Regions from separate parts of the Homo sapiens genome. Here region 1 is linked to region 2. The links come from fine-mapping of genetic effects on gene expression. A gene starts in region 2. The other region holds a variant in brackets. All regions are shown on one strand. Distances are between the middles of the regions. Region 1 overlaps NMT1 (N-myristoyltransferase 1). Region 2 holds the start of DCAKD (dephospho-CoA kinase domain containing).

Region 1 (2,901 bases), 53 kb before region 2:
ATACAATTGTCAAGTTCGCTGGCGGTTTGGTAAAGCCGGTTCAGTTCTGCTCCCTTTGCCAGGGATTCTCACGTGTGTGAAAATTGGACCAACAGTGGTGGGGTTCCATTTCCTGGTTCGAATTTTCAGTGGCTTTATCCAGAATCGCACTGGTGACTGGTTATTGTAGCACCAGTCCAACCTAGGAAAGCCAACAGGGAGAGGCAGAGCTGAGTTGACAGTGGCCCAAAGACTCTCCCACACCCCCTATCCCTGAAGTTCCGAGTGGCTGGGCCCGGGTCCACCGCCTGTGCTGTGGGAGCAGACTCACACCCAGCCGGCCCCACACTCAACCTCCACACCAGGGTTCACACGTCCATCAGACCTCCCAGGGAAAACTGGCCCACGCTCCAGCTCACCCCTATGTCCCCTGTGGCACTGGGGGAGGAAGGGCTAAGAAAGTGTCATGCCAGAAGAGGGCAGCAGCTCAGGAGAGGAAACCTCCTCAGAGTTCCCCCAGCCCTACCCTCCTGGCAAACCGTGGGCAACTCAACTTCCACGGTTCCCTCACGTGGGAAGGCCTCATTGGAGATGATCTTCGTGCTACTGTGTGGCTCTGTCCCCTCTGCCATCCTCACACCAGTTGCTGAGAGGGGAACGCTGACCTGCTGGTCTGGCCAGCAGAGGGAGGGCATTTTCAAAGGTTCAACTCGAGGTAACAAGGACCCAGACTGCGGCTGTCTCCTCAACCCATGGCCCGGTTTCTGCTGGAGACATGGACACCCTGGGCCGGGCAGCCTGGACTCTGGCTATGTGTCGCCTACCTTCTCTGCCCCCATGCTGGGGCATTTCCAATTGTAAAGGTAATACTGCAGGTTGCCGTCCCCTATGCCAAACTTGAGCTTCTCCAGGAAGGTTTTGTTCTCCATGAGATCCAGTGCATTGAACACATCAAACCCTTTCTGCAAAGCAGCAGGGACAAACAAGAACAGGTGAGGACAGGTGGGGACAGCCTCCTTCCTACCCCTTTGCTGCCATTTCAAAGCTGTCCTGTGGGCAGCCACAAGAACAAGGTTCCCTCAGAAGCTCCGCTGCTTCCACGTTAATCCCCGCTCTCCGGGTGGTTCTCAGGACACTCTGAGCGCCCCCTCCAGCCTGGCCTCTGCCCAGTGTCCCTCAGAGTGTACACATATGTACTCAGTGTCCAGGCCGGGGCTCTTGCTATTCCTGGTTATGCCTCCCTGAAACT[CTA/A]GTAATTTCCACAGTCCTCTCTGGAGTCCAAACCCTGAGCCCATTCCTCTGAGAAGCTGGCTCTGGTCAGCTACATGGGGTTTGTGTTGCTTCCTTACTCCATGGATGCCCCAACTCTCAGGCCCTCAGTGCACCTCATGTTGTATGACACCTGCTGTGTTGCTTGGAGACTGTGAAGATGCTTCCTAAACCTCACCAACTGGAGCAGAAGCTCTCACAGGGCAGGGACCAGATTGCCTACAGCAGGCTGGGCTGGGCTGGGCACAGGTTACCAGAACCCACAGCAAAGCACTGACAGACGGGCTCGCCATCCGCTACTGGCAGTTGGATGCTCCAATGACTCACCACGACAGACAGCAATCACCCCTTTCCCACGCTGGGAAAGCTGTGAGGAGAAGCCCTGTCCTCCCAGGGAAGGCCTGGCTATTCAGGCTCCTTGGTGGCGCCTCCTGTGAGAACGAAACTCACTGAAATGAATCAGGAGGAGTTCAATGCCTTCACTTCGGATGCTCCTTGTTCCCTCCAAGTTTTGAGTTTCTGCCTAAAAACTGCGGGAACCCTGCCTAAGCAGAACAGATGAGGAGGGCTCAGAGCCTCCAGCCCATGGGAGGCTGCGTCCCGGGAGCTGTGCTCACCATGGCTCCACTGCCTCTTCCCTGCACATCTCCAGAGACCCCCCCGTCTGCTCCTCACCATTTTGGCGAGGACAAGGGCGTCGCTCATGAGGTCTAGAAGAGGGGTCTGGGTGTGAACGTTGTAGAAAGAATAAGCAGCTTTGAGACTCTTGTGGGTTGGATGGTTCATGATGGTGGAGGGCAGCGTATAAAAGCTCAGGAAATCTGTCACCTCTCCGTTTGCGTTCTGAAGGGAAGGCAATAAAGAGGCAATGTCAAGCATGCACAGTGGCACTGCGGCCCGGGAACAAAATGTTTCTCTCACTCCACCTTCAGGCAGCTCTGCCCCTCTAGATAAATGGCTGGAAACTGCAACAGGACATGTGGGGAGGAGGAGGGACATTGGCTCAGGGCACTTGAGGACAGAGCCGTGATCGTGGGCTGAACCTGCCAGACCTCTTTCCCAGCATGGGCACCGCCAGGGACCTCTTCTTGCAGCTCACATCCCCCCAGACTGTGTCTCCTATGTCTGGTCAGCACTGGGTTAAGCTGGGACAGGCAGGGAATTGCAGGCTTTCCTGAAGGATTAAGCGGGGCTCAGTTCTCTCTATTTTGTGTTATCAAAGTGGGGCAGAGGGGGAGAAGGGCTCAAGCCAGATCCAGAGGTATCTTTTCAGCAAATTCAAGCACCAACTCCCTGTTTTTAGGGAGGACCAAACACGGATGGTCAAGGAAGTCTAAGGTGCCAACACTCGAGCCCTGGGAACCCGGCCACTCAGGGGGGTGCCTCTCTGGGAACGTGTTAGAGACCTGGAACACCACTCCCTGACTCACCTCCACCACGAAAGTGTCGATGATATTCTCCTGGGGGTAGAACCAGTGCTCCACCTCCTCCTGGCTCATGACGGGCGTAAGGTGAAATTGCTTCAAGTACCTGGTGAGGAGCTGGTGCACTACTGGAATGTCCTTTGTTTCCATTGGTCGCAGCCCAGCTGTCTTGGGAGTCTGGAGGCAAGACAGAAGAGATGGAGTGAGATGAGCTGATCACCCTGGATCT
Region 2 (2,901 bases):
GGAGTGCAGTGACCGGATCTTGGGCTCACTGCAACCTCCACCTCCCGGGTTCAAGCAATCCTCCTGCCTCAGCCTCCCGTGTAGCTGGGATTACAGGCATTCACCACCACGCCCGGCTAATTTTGTATTTTTAGTAGAGACGGGATTTTGCCATGTTGGCCAGGCTGGTCTCAAACTCCTGACCTCAGGTGATCCACCCGCCTTGGCCTCCCAAAGTGCTGGGATTACAGGCGTGAGCCACAGCGCCCGGCCTAGATGCTTTATTTTTTTTGAGGCAAGGTCTCGTTTTGTTGCCCAGGCTGGAGTGCAGTGGTACCATCATGGCTCTCTGCAGCCTTGACCTCCTGGGCTCAAGCCATCCTCCTGCCTCAGCCTCCCGAGTAAATGAGACCACACTGTCACCATGCCTGGCTAGTTTGTTTTTTGTTTTTTTTTTTTGTAGAGATCGGGGGTTAGTCTCACTCTTGTTTAGGCTGGTCTCGAACTCCTGGGCTCAAGTGATCCTCCCAAAGTGCTGAGATTACAGGTGTGAGCCACCGTGCCCGGCTTTTATGTATTCTTTCAACAACGCTGCACGGCTGCGATTATCCCCACTTTGAGAGGAGACAGGATGAGAGGCTGAGTGGCTTGCTAGGCTTGTATGGACAGGATGCGGGCTCTGCAATCACATGACTTTGTATGAGAGGGCAAATGGATTAACCGCTAAACATAGTTTCCTGTTGTGTAAAATGGGGATGATGATAGTATCCACCCTGCGGACTGTGCGGGCTGAGATAATCCCACAAAGTGCTCTTAGGACCTGGCAGGTGGAAAGTGCTCATGATCACCTCTGCCAAGGCTGCACAAGTAGCGAGTGGCCGAGCTTTATATCCGAAGTTAGGACCCTGCAGTTTTGCCCCTCTCCTCTCTCTCCCTCTCCTTCCCGGCTCCGGGGAAAGGAAAATTTATGGCTCCGGGTCGGGGGTTGCGGGGGACCTCTGTGCCGTGCTCCGGGGCCGAGCTCTCCCCGCCGGCCTCTCCCGCGTCCGTCCGGCCGCCCTCCCGCCCAACCTCTCCCGCCCAACCTCTCCCGCGTCCGCCCGCCCGCCCAACCTCTCCCGCGTCCGCCCGCCCGCCCAACCTCTCCCGCGTCCGCCCGCCCGCCCAACCTCTCCCGCGTCCGCCCGCCCGCCCAACCTCTCCCGCGTCCGCCCGCCCGCCCAACCTCTCCCGCGTCCGCCCGCCCGCCCAACCTCTCCCGCGTCCGCCCGCCCGCCCAACCTCTCCCGGCCCCGCCCGCCCGCCCGCCCAACCTCTCCCGGCCCCGCCCGCCCGCCCGCCCAACCTCTCCCGGCCCCGCCCGCCCGCCCGCCCAACCTCTCCCGGCCCCGCCCGCCCGCCCGCCCAACCTCTCCCGGCCCCGCCCGCCCACCCAACCTCTCCCGGCCCCGCCCGTCCAACCTCTCCCGGCCCCGCCTGCTGGCCGGACGTCCGGTCTGCAGGCGCGCGCTCCCGAGGTCCCGCCTCGCCCGCTGAGCCGGCCTGTAAGCGCTGCGGAGATTGGGCTAGAGGCGGAGGCCTGGGCCACGGCGGAGGCGCTGGGTACGTAGCGCGCCACGCGGGCCGGTGAGAGCCAGCCGGGCGCCGGGGAGGGGGCGGGCCCTGGCCGCGGCTGCTACGCGGGGCTGCCACCGCCCCGGGCGACCCAATTTCGCGGCCTAGTGGGGCGTACGGGCCTCTTTTGAAAGCCTGAGTTACGATGTATTGAGCGCGTCGTATGCGGCCAGCACTAAGGCAAGTGCTTTTATATCCACGGCCCATTGTCTTGACAGCAACCCTACCAAGCAACGTGTTATTTCCTCTGTTTTACGGCTGAGGACGCGCAGGAAGGTTTACAGCTAGAAAGGGCTGGAGATTGTGGATTCAAACTCAGGATCAGACCAAAGCCACTGCCCTTTAGAACTTTGCGGGCCGATTGATTCTTGAATCTAGCTTCTGCCACTTCAGTTGTGTGACCTTGGGGTATCTTTCCGATCCCAAGTTTGCTCATCTGAAAAATGGGAATAAAGCTACAGTATCTGTCCCATAGGGTGGGTATAAAGTGCTTTACTGTTGAGCTGAGTGATCATCTCCGATTTTCAGACCCCTCTCCTCCGCTTCCCTCTCCCCTGGGAGGCCAGTTAAGGTTTTAGTGAAGGCCCCCGGGACTGGGGCGGCGTGGATCTCACGCCCACCAACTAGTGAGGGAGGCCATCCGGCCACCCGTCTCTTCCTTCCCCAGCTCCGCAAAGGAGGCGTTGGCATTTCAGGTGTTTGCTTACAGAGTTTTCAAAGATTTTTCACTCTCCCTTAGTTGTGGGAAAATGATTCAACCTACCCAAGTGAACTTTGACATTAAGTCTCAATTCTAACGGTGAGGAAATGGAAGCCTTTGAATATGTTTTATGTCTTAAACGTGTTTGTTTTTGCAGGAGGGAGAGTGCTCATTTTACCTGAATAAATCAAGATTGAGTTGGTGTGGCACAGTGCTGGCATAGGCCTGGGGAAAGGGGTGAAATGCTAGAGATCTGGTAGATGGATAGAAAGTGGACAGACGGGTTCGGGTGGTTTTTGTCTCAGCAGGGCCCTAAATTCCCACCAAATCCTCCTCTGTCTGTCTTCACCAAGGTCTGAATCTGTCCCCTTGGTAAATAACGTTTAAATGGTCTCCGAGCCCCTCTTGGTGCCTGTACCTTAAGGAGAGAAGAAGAGGGCTGATAGCTGAAGGCAGGCAAGCCACGAACTTAGCTTTGTTTTGAAAATTACCCTCTGGGCCGGGCACGGTGGCTCACGCCTGTAATCCCAGCGCTTTGGTAGGTTGAGGAGGGTGGATCACCCGAGGTTAGGAGTTCGAGACCAGCCTGGTCAACATGGTGAAACCCC

What was found. PIP is the estimated chance that this variant, and not a neighbour inherited with it, causes the effect.
Region 1: its variant is the best candidate, but not a certain one, in a credible set for the expression of DCAKD in lung (TOPMed, PIP 0.58).

What each region holds. Positions count from the first base shown.
Region 1 is chr17:45,102,899-45,105,799 of GRCh38, reverse strand. NMT1 (N-myristoyltransferase 1) reads right to left here. Exons shown (of 12, transcript NM_021079.5): 9 at 2,679-2,849; 10 at 1,924-2,091; 11 at 804-941; 12 at 1-181. The coding sequence ends at 161. Among named protein-coding and RNA genes, the nearest start is that of MIR6784, 10 kb to the left of the region's middle. RefSeq lists an enhancer at 1,774-2,274. The variant CTA/A (reference allele first, on the strand shown) is at 1,229.
Region 2 is chr17:45,050,233-45,053,133 of GRCh38, reverse strand. It overlaps DCAKD (dephospho-CoA kinase domain containing), which reads left to right and starts at 1,502. Exons shown (of 5, transcript NM_001288655.2): 1 at 1,502-1,773. RefSeq lists a silencer at 1,362-1,861.